3 linked regions of the Homo sapiens genome follow. The protein of the gene in region 2 purifies or fractionates together with the protein of the main gene of each other region. This does not show direct contact. Each region holds a gene or a part of one and is shown on either strand. Other genes may lie near its edges. The genes, in order: SLC25A15, MESP2 and ACSL1.

What was found.
Region 1: the proteins of MESP2 (region 2) and SLC25A15 purify together in Homo sapiens (affinity purification with mass spectrometry; one large-scale study listed by BioGRID and IntAct). This does not show direct contact.
Region 3: the proteins of MESP2 (region 2) and ACSL1 purify together in Homo sapiens (affinity purification with mass spectrometry; one large-scale study listed by BioGRID and IntAct). This does not show direct contact.

Annotation. Positions count from the first base shown.
Region 1 is NC_000013.11:40,799,586-40,803,232, forward strand, and holds part of SLC25A15 (mitochondrial ornithine transporter 1), read left to right. Parts: exon of another isoform or gene 1-1,139; intron 1,140-3,647.
Region 2 is NC_000015.10:89,774,935-89,779,170, reverse strand, and holds MESP2 (mesoderm posterior protein 2), read right to left. Parts: upstream 2,840-4,236; 5' UTR 2,814-2,839; coding exon 1,890-2,813; intron 1,107-1,889; coding exon 837-1,106; 3' UTR 417-836; downstream 1-416. UniProt on the Homo sapiens protein: Transcription factor with important role in somitogenesis. Defines the rostrocaudal patterning of the somite by participating in distinct Notch pathways. Also regulates the FGF signaling pathway. Specifies the rostral half of the somites.
Region 3 is NC_000004.12:184,819,446-184,823,092, forward strand, and holds part of ACSL1 (long-chain-fatty-acid--CoA ligase 1), read right to left. Parts: intron 1-3,647. UniProt on the Homo sapiens protein: Catalyzes the conversion of long-chain fatty acids to their active form acyl-CoAs for both synthesis of cellular lipids, and degradation via beta-oxidation. Preferentially uses palmitoleate, oleate and linoleate.

The sequences.
Region 1 (3,647 bases), on a different chromosome or scaffold from region 2:
TCCTTTTATTTATGAAGTTATACATTGTCATCATATAAAACTTAGAAACCACATATGCACACCACAGAGGAGACCTGCTCATCATCCACCACTGAGAATGAACCGCCCTTCTGTTTCAGTTTTCTCCAGGAGAATGCTGTTCAGATGCAGCTGGCAGTGCTACCTCTCGTCAGCAGACATGCTGCACTGAAACTGTAGATGCTGCTTATGATCCAAGATTTAGCTTTTCTTTCATTAGCAAAAAGCAGAGTATTGGAAGAGGTTGTCTGAGCCAGATGAACTTGAGGAGTTTTAGGAAGGGTCGGAAATGTCTGCGAAGATGCAAGGGAACCCACCTTTCTCTGTCCAAATCTTCCCAAAACATCAGACTTTGCCTCTTTGTTGGTCTTGCCTTGGGTATTTATTATATAGAGACTAAACAGAATTTGGAAACCACTGGGATGTTTAGCTATCCCTGCTTTGAATGTTGATTTATTTTATACCACTTAAAATTATTATATAAGCTTCAAGATTGCAAAGGGCAGTCTTAGTTATTTCAGTAGGAGTTTGAAACCTGATTGCAGCTGCAGGTCCCACACAACTGAATTCGGTTTCTTGTGCACAGCACTGTTCTCTGGAGGTGCCTGGAGGTCTGAAGGTGTGCCCTTTTATAGACAGGAATTCCACCATGATGGGTAGAGCTTGTTTTTTAAAAAGGCTTGGGACTAGATACGATTGCCCAAGAAGACAGTGTAGACAGCGAGGAGGGCTGAGCATGAATGGGATGAGCCTCCAGCACAGAAAGGGCAGGCAGGAAGGCAGTAAAGAAACAAGCAGGGCACAAACCAGGAGAGTATGGCATGCCATGATGGAGACTGAACAGAAGCAAAAACTACAGGCAACTGTAGTTTTGTTCCCTGTTGAAGGAGAGACACTCTATTAGAGAAGACCTGGAATTCAGTTCAGTTTCCTTAGCAAAGGACAAAATGGGGAGAGAAGACAGGGAAACAGTAAGCAGCCACGTGAGATTCTGGGGAAGACCTGTGTCTTCTGAGCAAAGTAGCCCCTCCAGCCACAGGATAGACAGTGACTTCTGTCTTGCATGAGTGAAACCACTGGATCTGGCTCTGCCCGCCCCTCCACTTTCTTGCTTCCTTAGCCTGTGAACAAAGTGAAGGACAGGTAAGAGCATATTGCTTTTCTGCTGAGAACAATCTAATACCTTACAGCTGCATTTTCCCACACTGCTTTCAGAACATTGAATTGCTGGGTGTCCTTAAGAAAGGGTTGGGAAATTACGTCACAGTGTCTCTCTCGTGAAGAATCACTCTGGGTACATTTATTTCATATAGTGTATGTGTTATTTAGTTCATTAAAGATGCGTAAGGCTGGGCACAGTGGCTCACGCCTGTAGTCCCAGCACTTTGAGAGGCTGAGGTGGGCAGATTACTTGAGCCCAGGAGTTTGAGACCAACCTGAGCAACATGGCAAAACCCCGTCACTACAAAAAATACAAAACTTAGCTGAGTGTGGTAGCACATGTCTGTGGTCCCAGCTACCAGGGAGGCTGAGGTGGGAGGATTGCTTGAGCTCAGGAGGCAGAGGTTGCAGTGAGATGATGCCACTGCACTCCAGCCTGGGCAACAGAGCGAGACTGTGTCTCTCAAAAAAAAAAAAAAAAGAAAAGAAAAGAAACCATCCTGATTAACCTTGTCTAATCCAGCACTCATCTTTTTTGAGCTTGGGCCCGTTTTTTTTTTCCATCCTGAGGAACAGTGTTTGCCTCTTACCTGTTGGGGAAATGCTCTCTTAGAGTCTACAAAGCTCTGACATGTATATCATGTCTCTATAGCCCTCACCGTGATCCTGTGAGAAGAGCAAGGCAGATGTTACCTCTCTTAGGGATGGAAAACTGAGGTGCCGATGTTGACCTGCTCAAGGTCACCCCGCTAAGGACTTGAAATTGTGTCCTCTGAGCTCCTGCCCAGTCTCCTTTCCATCAGACCACAGTTGGGGGTCTGGAATATTTTATAAGGGTCAGTTCTAGAGAGAAGATTAATCAGGAGCAGTGAAAGGAAAGAACTGCTTGTGAGAGCCTGTGGTGAATTTCTGCAATCACATTGTAAATATTTGTCTGTTCCCGGTTTCAACATGACCCAGAATGTTCTAGTTTGACGTTTGGCTGGACAGGGTCTTACATAGCAGGAGTGCTCAGGTACATGTTTGTTGAACATATGACAAATGGATGATTCTTACAAAATCCCATCCTATACCTATTACTGTTTCAATTCCAGTTCTACACATTCATACTACATGCAGAACCAGGGGCCCATGCACCTCCTTCTGTGCACTGGTCAATGAAAGTATTTATTGGAAAGCCAAAGTCCACTGCATATCTGATTTGACTGTGTCCTTGCACTATAATAATGTGCTTGGTGTTCATTCAGATGTCTGAGCCATTATTATATCTTAAACTCAATAGACTTCTACATTTATTGACTGCCACCTTTGTCCTGGCAAACTTGGCAGATCCTGGTTAATGCTCCTAATTGACTATTGCCTGTCAACAGGTTAACAGAGAGTCCCTGAGGGAGGCCAACTGTGGATCTGCAGGCTGGCTGCAAGACAACAGAAACCATTTTAAGCTTCAGTTCTAACAAGCTGCTAAGGAGTGAAGTGGGGGAAAGGAGTGGACTGAACAGCATTGGATGGTTTCCACACCCCATAAAAGCGTGTGCAAGTACATTTGTGTACCTGGTTCTCCTTTGCTAATGGTTTTAGGCTTAATTCTCTAACATCAAAAGGAAGTCCTTACTGCAAACAGTGTCTTCCTACTGAAAGAAAGCTCCACTCTAAGCCAAGTCTTCTGAAAGAGTTGCCTCTGGCCATGGTACAGAAGCTAGACCACCAGGGACTAGCAAACCAGGGCCAAGACTGGTGCCACCTTGATTTTATACTAATCTTTAACACTGGAAAAACTTGAGTACCCCTGAATATGGTAAGTCCATCTGTGCTTTTTTTTTTTTTTTGAGACGGAGTCTCACTCTGTCGCCCAGGCTGGAGTGCAGTGGCGCAATCTTAACTCATTGCAACCTCGCCTCCCCAGTTCAAGCAATTCTCCTGCCTCAGCCTCCCGAGTAGCTGGGACTACAGGCGCCCACCACCATGCCCAGCTAATTTTTGTATTTTAGTAGAGATGGGGTTTCACCATGTTGGCCAGGATGGTCTTGATCTCTTGACCTCGTGATCTGCCCACCTCGGCCTCCCAAAGTGCTGGGATTACAGGTGTGAGCCACCGTGCCCTGCCCCATCTGTGCTTTTGCTCACAGTTTGGAGAAAAATTGTTAGGGGATTATATCTCTACCTGAGTAGTTAGCTGAGGAGATTCCCACCCACCCTTAGGGGTTTTTGGAAATCTCTGAGGGTGATCTTGGCTGTCCAGTGAGAGCATGATGCTGGCATTGAATGGGTGTCAGGGAACCAGTTCAGTCCTTCCTGCCCAATGAAGGATTGTCCTACCCCCAAATGCCAGTCATGATCCCATGACACAACACTCTTCTAGGGCTGGAAGGGATCTTCTATCCCAACTCCCATGAACCAGGAACTCGCAGAGAAGCCTTTCTTCTGAAACACTTCTCAGACTTTTCCCCGTATTCGTTTTTTTTTTT
Region 2 (4,236 bases):
AAAATTTCATGTCATTGTGAAAGAGCCCTAAATGACAGGTCTCTGGGACTGTGGTCTCCCCATTTGGGGCTCCTGTCTGTCTGTCCACAGCTGCATGCACCCACCCCAGCAGTCACCAGGAATGCACCCGAAGAACACAAAAGGGCAGTGGTGATGTGGCTGAGGCAAGTGGGCAGGCCCAAGCTTAGCCCACCTGTGCTACCTTGCACAGCAAGCCAGGTGGAGCTTTTGGCCCTGGAGCTCCAGTGCAATAAATATGGTCAAACTGACAAATGAGGGCCCACCCAAACCTTGGCAGGCCTGGATTAGAGAAGGAAAGAGCAGCAGAACTTGTTCCCCACAGAAGGAAAACATGTTTCCTTTTCCAGAGGCAAGAAAAACCCAGGTTGATGAACAAAAAACAAGGCCAAACCAAATTTTTGTTGTGTGTGTGTGTTTTTTCTTTTTAAGTACAAAAAAATCAAAGCATACAGGGCTCTGGCCAACTGTCACCAAGAAGCAGAGCCTGGGGCCTGCCTCCTACACCCATTCTCCCACCTGTCCCTGCCCAGCTGCCTTTAGGGTAAAGGAGACCCCTTCTTAGAGCAGCTCAGACTGTGCTCTGCAGAGCGCCAGGCATTCTGGGGGTGTCTAGCAGTGGAGGACAGTGCCCCCGCCCTGACTCCATCCAGGGAAGGTACCCGCTATCTATTTCAAACACTGCTTCCCTGAAAGACATCACTTGGAAAAAGGGAGCCTTGGCTAAAGGAGAACATGAAAAGCCACTAATTAACAAATAAGGAGGCACCCAAGCTACAGGACTGATTCCTGGATGGAAAGAGGGAAGCCGAGGCCATTTAGTAGAAGATGCCCAGGCGGGCCCCCTCCAGATCTTCTTGCCAAAGTTCAGGGCAGCCACTGAACCGCAGGCCTGAGCTCTGGGGAGGGCTTGCTTCACTGAGCTGGAAGGCGGCGCCCGGTCCCTGGTCCTCTGAGTTGGGCACCACCTCTGCACTGTGGCTCCAGCACCTCCCGGGGGTCTGAGGCTGCAGTCTCTGGCATGATGGGTGGGGCAGGAGAGATGGAGCTCCCAGCGACAGACAGGGCTCTGGAGACACAGAGAGACCCTGCAAGAGAGATGAGAGCAGCCTGGTTAGTGGGCTACTCCCTGATATCCAGAGATCTTGAATCTGGCTGGTTGCCATGGTATGGCTGGCAGCATCCGGACAGCCCTGGTGCCATGAATGCAGCAAAGCCAAGTGGTTAAGAGGACTGGCTCGGGAGACACTCTGCTAAGGCTTAAATCCCAGTTCTGCTACTCACTAGTAATGAGAACTCAGGTAGCTTCTTTTAGTCTCAGTTTTCTCACCTGTAAAATAGAGATGCTGATAATACCTACTTCCTAGGGTCATTACTGGGGCTGAATAATACATGTAAGGTGCCAAGAATGATGATGGGCACATAGAAAGTGTTCAACAAATTTTGGTTAATATGATTTTTTATGGACGATGAGTCATTCATGAGCCTCATGAATGAACGAATCTTGAAGAAAACTTGAAATCACCAGCTCTAGGCCCATCTACTCAGGAAATGCTGCCCTTACCCTGGGACTTCCTTCCCCCACTGCAGTCTTAATAGCACTTGAAGCCAGCACGCCCACCCTGCTACTTTCCACCCTCTGAGAAAGTCGGCGGGCTCCCCCTCTTTCCCATGGCTGTGAAGACTGCTTGTGGTGACTGTGGAGATGGCCTTAACTTCCCAGGGTCCCATCTCTTCTCCCACGGAGCCGGGGGTTCCTTCCATTCTCCCCTCCGTTAGATAATCCTGGAGTAGATAAGCTGGGATCGAAAAAGTACGAGATTCTCTGCAGACTGGAGGCTGGGGAACACAGCAAGGGCCTCCACACATACCTGGTACACTGCGGCCAGCTCCAAAGTTGCTGGGGCCGCCGTCCAGGGCACTGGTGGGTTCCGGGGCTCTGGGGACGACTGCGTCCAGGGACAGCCTTGGGGTGGCGTCCAAAGAGACGCGTCGGAGGTTGTCCCTTGGGACGAATACGGGGGCGACTGTATCTTGGGGCAGTAAGGGGGTGTTGCCCAGGGATCCGTGTCGTGGACCCCCCTCCCCAGGCGCTCGGGTGCGGCTTGGGCTCCGGGGCAGGCGGACGGGGATCCCCAGGACGCCTCGGCGAGGACGGCGGAGACCAGGCCCGGCCTGCGCCCCTGCCCTTGCCCCTGTCCTTGCCCCTGTCCTTGCCCCTGCCCTTGCCCCTGCCCCTGCCCCTGCCCTTGCCCCTGCCCCTCCGCCTGCGTCTGCGCCTCTGCGGGGCCACGGTCGGGGCACAGCGGGCAGCCCCAAGGGGACCCCGCGTCCCCGCGCTGCCTGCGCCGGCACTGCAGACTCTCCTCGCTGAGACCCAGCACGGCCGATAGGTGGCCGATGTAGCGGATGGCCAGGCGCAGCGTCTCGATCTTGGTCAGGCTCTGGCCGGCCGGCGCCAAGGAGGGAGGCAGAAAGCGGCGCAACTCGTGCAGGGCGCGGGCCAGCGTGCGCATGCGCAGTTTCTCCCGCTCGCTGGCGCTCTGCCGCTGTCCGCCCGCTGGTCCGGTGCGCGCTCGTCTGGGCGTCGTCGCGGCTGCCTCTGCGGCTCGGGAGCTGCAGCTCGGAGGCTGTGGCTGCGGGAGTCCGCGGGCGCCGTCGCAGGGGCACGAACCCGACGAATCGGAGGAGGAGGCCGGGGACGTGGAGTCCCAGTGGCCGGCCCAGCCCCAGCCCTGGGCGAAGATCCAGTGGTCGTGGCCGAGGAGGCTCTGCGGAGGAGGCGACTGGGCCATGGCCGGGCTGCAGGCTCTGGGAGGCTGGGTTGGCCACCTCCAGGCCTGAGCTTTTATGTTGACCAAAGGTGCGAGGTGGCCCCCCGCCAGGTTGCAGAGAGGTGTCAAAACCCACAGAGCCCAGGGAAAGTCTGGGCAGGGGGCCCCTGGGAAAGCGGGCCCATTTGCGGAGGTGTGGATTCTGACTCCTTGGGGGCTCTAAATGGAGGCCCCTGCAGCCCGGGAAGTATGGGAGGGACAATTCGCATCTGGATGGAGCTGCTAAGCTTCTCACCACGCTCCCACCCACGCCCCTGCCCCGTCCACTGCTCACGGTGAGTGCCCGGGAGCCCAACAGAGGCGGGTAGTGCCATGGTCTGTGGGTGCCTCAGGGACCCCGTGAGGAGTGGGTGCCTCTCTCATCACTAACCTCCCGGAGGTCTGTGCCCAGGACGCTGTGCCTACTGTTGTATTAAATAAGGCATCAAGACAAGCCCGGAGGGCCCTGCCCATGGTGGCTGAGGAAGAAGTGCAGGTGGGCCCTTCTGGGGTCCCCAAAATCCACAGTTTCTGATTTGTTGAGTGACACACCAAGAAAGGCATCTCACTGCCCATGGTCTGTATCTACTCTTGAGAAATGGAATAGATTAGGTTGGGGAAGAGGAGTTGGGTACCCTAGGTGATGAAAACCGGCGAAAATGGGTCCCCAAGCCGGCCTCTTTATTGGCTGTGACCTTGGTTAAGTTATTTAGCTCCTCTGAGCCTCAGATTCCCTCATCGGTACCAATAGTGATACAAAATACCTATGCCTAGGATGGTTCCTGGACTAAGTACAGCGATCCCTGTAAAGCACTTAGGCCCTGGCAAGTGAGCTGAAGGTTTGCCATGATCGTTTTATAAAGAAGGTACTGGCCAGGCATGGTGGCTGATGCCTGTAATCCCAGCACTTTGGGAGGCCGAGGTGGATGGATCACCTGAGGTCATAAGTTCGAGACCAGCCTGGCCAACATGCTGAAACCCTGTCTCTACTAAAAATACAAAAACCAGCCGAGTGTGGTGGCAGGCACCTGTAATCCCAGCTACTCGGGAGGCTGAGGCAGGAGAATCGCTTGAACCCGGGAGGCGGAGGTTGCAGTGAGCTGAGATCGTGCCACTGCACTCCAGCCTGGGCGAGTGCGAGACTCCGTCTCAAAAATAAATAAATAAGTAAATAAATAAATAAATAAATAAAATAAAAGGAAAGTACTTAGATTTCAAGGCACTAATGGACTTTATTCATTTAATTCATATTTATTTATTTATTCTCTTTTTTTTGTTTTTGAAACAGACTTGGTCTATCGTCCAGGCTGGAGTGCAGTGGCACCATCTCAGCTCACCGCAACCTCTGCCTCCTGGGTTCAAGTGATTCTTCTGCCTCAGCCTCTCAAGTAGGTGGGACTACAGG
Region 3 (3,647 bases), on a different chromosome or scaffold from region 2:
ATGTACTCAACACAAACTTTATCCCAGCAAAAGCACAGACTTGAGTCTAGAGATTTTCAGTGTCTTGATCTTAGCTATAGGATCAAAGACACCATCGGACCAGGACACAGGAAGGTCAGTCAGGCAGATGACAGCACCCAGGTACAGTGTCTTGGGTACACAGACCCATTAACCCCATGCCGCCAGAGTTTGCTTTCTAGAAGCCTCAGGATATGGTGGTTTGGAGAGGAGTGGAGATAGCAGGTAGGAAGCAAGCTGCAGAAGCCCCTGACAGGCAAGGTAAGTAAACACCTGGAGCCTTATGGAGGGGAGCCTGGAAGGCTTCTGCTTAGGAGGGATTTGATCAGAGCTGTGATTTAGAAAAAGCAACCATCCCCCTCTGCACCCTGCCCCTCTTCCTAACAAAGGCCTTCACTGTTTAAATTGGAGGTGACAATTCTGGTTCACGATGGCAATACTGAGAAGGCAAGGAGGAAATGCATGTGTGTTGGGTAATACTGCACAGAGAGGGTCAGAATAAGCAGAACTGCTGACTGACTGGACTTCAGGGCAGAAACCAAGGGCAATACCGACGTCCAGCCATTCTTTGAACAGGCACAGGGCCCGGGAACAAACTCCACACGTGTGCATGGCCAGAGGGTCAGGCAGGTTGTGTTACCTTGGCCAAGTCACCCCCCTCCGATCCCTGCAGACTCCCAAGTAGCTGGGACTACAGGTGCCCACCACCATGCCTGGCTAATTTTTTGTATTTTTAGTAGAGACAGGGTTGCACCGTGTTAGCCAGGATGGTCTTGATCTCCTGACCTCATGATCCGCCCACCTCGGCCTCCCAAAGTGCTGGGATTACAGGCGTGAGCCACTGCACCCGGCCAGTCATGCGTCTCAATTGTTCTCCAGCCTTACAAGACCAATGTCCAGGGCAGGCAAAGCCTTTTATTTTTTAATTCTCTAGAAAGTCACAGCTACATAGCAAGTGATCTTATCACTCCCTGAGCCACGCTGAATCAAAATTTGTGGTCTCTTTCAGCACTCTAGTGGTATAAAGAGATAATTCAAGGCAGAGTGTAAATGAGATGGGGGTAAAATCAAGGAGCAGTGACACCGAAGGAGACCCAGCTCTGTCCTTCCTGTCTTACTGCCAGCTGTATAACCTGGAACTTTCTTTTTTTTTCTTTTGGAGACAGAGTCTCACTCTGTCACCCAGGCTGGAGTGCTGTGGCGCAATCTTGGCTCACTGCAGCCTCCGCCTCCTGGGTTCATGCGATTCTCCTGCCTCAACCTCCCGAGCAGCTGAGACTACAGGCACGTACCACCACGCCCAGTTAATTTTTGTATTTTTAGTAGAGACGGGGTTTCACCATATTGGTCAGGGTGATCCACCCGCCTCGGCCTCCCAAAATGCTGGGATTACAGGCGTGAGCCACCGCACCTGGCCTAACCTGGAACTTTCTAGGCCCTCCTGGAGTGAGAACTTCTAGCTCTGGAGGGGCAGTAGAGCCCAGCAATTAGGAGCACAGACCCTGAAGCCAGACTGCCTAGGTTCAAATTCTGGTATGGGGAACTTAATCTTTGCACCTGTTCCTTTATCTTGTGTACAGTAAGGATAGCAGCAGGACCTACCTTACAGGGTTGCTGAAGGTACTAATGAGTTAACCCATCAGAAGCTTAGCAGCACCTGGCTCTGTCTGCTGCTCTCATCACTGCTCTGTTCCTAAGCCTGGCCGTGTCCAGGCTGTGGCTACCACCTCGGTCAGCTACCACAGCCCTGCTTTGTGGCAGACACCTGGACCCTGAAGGAGAAACTAGCTCCGGAAGCACTTTCTCATGACTCTGCTTAATAAAGGAATAAATAGTATTCAGAGTGTTTCAGTCCTTCTTATATGGACATTTCTCCCACAACAAACCTAAGGGGAAAGTGCCCATTTCTATAGCAGCCAAAGCTGTGCTAATGGATAGAGCCTACATTTATCAGAAGTCCCCTCCAGAATGAGGAAATGGTCTACAGGCAGGCCCCGTTTCCTCCTCTGATGCCCTAACTTCTTTCCATTTCTCTTTCCAAACCATGAAATCCCTATTTCAACTGCTTTTGACTAGAATACATGAACCCAAAAGTCCATTAAACCTATTCATTAGTAAAAACACTTTTCAAATTATTGTTAATTTCAAGAGTTTTAAAGCAGAACATTTTTTATTTTTTAAAGACGTATTTAAACATATAACAAAGGTTGGTAAACTGTTCTGAAAAATATCCAACAAATGGGGAGAAGTAACTAAATTATGGCCCATACAGCAAATAATGCAGTCATCTTCAGAACTTATTTTTTGAAGAATATGTAACAACGTGTAAAAAAGCCCACAATATAACTTAGGTGATAAAGTTAAATTGTCAAAATTGTAATCTTTAATTAACAATGTATGCTTAAAATTTGTTTATTGTATAGGGAAAAAAGACTGGAAGGAAATATAACAAAATGTTAATAGTATTTAATCTCTGGAAGAGCTTCATTTTTCCTATTTCCCAAATTTTCTCCAGTAAGTATGTATGACTCTTAAAATATGAAAAACAAATACAGCTTTTCTGTGGCAAGTGGTTTTTAGATATTAGACAGCTTTCAGAATTTTATTTAAACTTGAAGACCAGCAAATAATTCATAAAGAGAATCAGCCCAGGCACCTATATGGAACCACCAGTTTTGAGATTTTATTTTATTGTTTTTACTTTTTTTTTTCTAGAGATGGGGTCTTGCTCTGTTGCCCAGGCTGGTCTTGAACTCCTGGCCTCAAGCAACAAGCTATTTGCCTCCAGATGATCACATCCTTCTAAGGCAGGCAGCACAGGGGAGCAGGGCCCTTACTCACCTCCACTTAAGTTTTTGTCCAAGGGTGACACCCTCCAAGCCAGCCACACTTCAAGGAGTCTCCAATATTTCACCCGCCCCTCTTGATTCCTCAAAGGTCATAAGTGAATCAATACTGTGTTGTTTCTAACACAGTCAAGAACATGAAAGTGGGCTGGGTGCAGTGGCTCACGCCTGTAATCCTAGCACTTTGGGGAGGCCAAGGAGGGCAAATCGCTTGAGCCCAGGAGTTCGAGACAACTGGGCAATATGGCAAAACCGCTTCACTACGAAAAAAATACAAAAATTAGCTGGGCATAGTGATGTGCGCCTGTAGTCTAAGCTACTGGAGAGGCTGAAGTGGGAGGATCAACTGAGCCCAGGGAGGTGGAGAGGCTGCAACGAGCCATGATCATGCCTGTACTCCAACCTGGGCGACAGAGTGAGACCTTATCTGGGAAAAAAGAAAAAAAAAAGAAAGTGAAAATGTCATGATGTAGAAAATGAACATAACTCAGATTATGTGATAGTTTTCTCTTCTTGCCATTATATACAACCCAAGGCTTGCCACAAACTGAAATTTCTTATGCATTGACATTCAGCATTTGATGTAAAATGACAATCTTAGAGTCGCTGCCACAAACCCTGGTAAAACTGCCCCTGCCTTCTCCAGTTCACTAAGTTCAGCTACTCCTTCAGGGCTTGTGCTCCTTTAAAACTTTTCAGAAGCCCCTTGAAGTACCAACATGTTGAAACTCAAACTCAACTGCCTGCAGCTTCAGATCAGCTCTGGCCACTGAGAATTCTTCT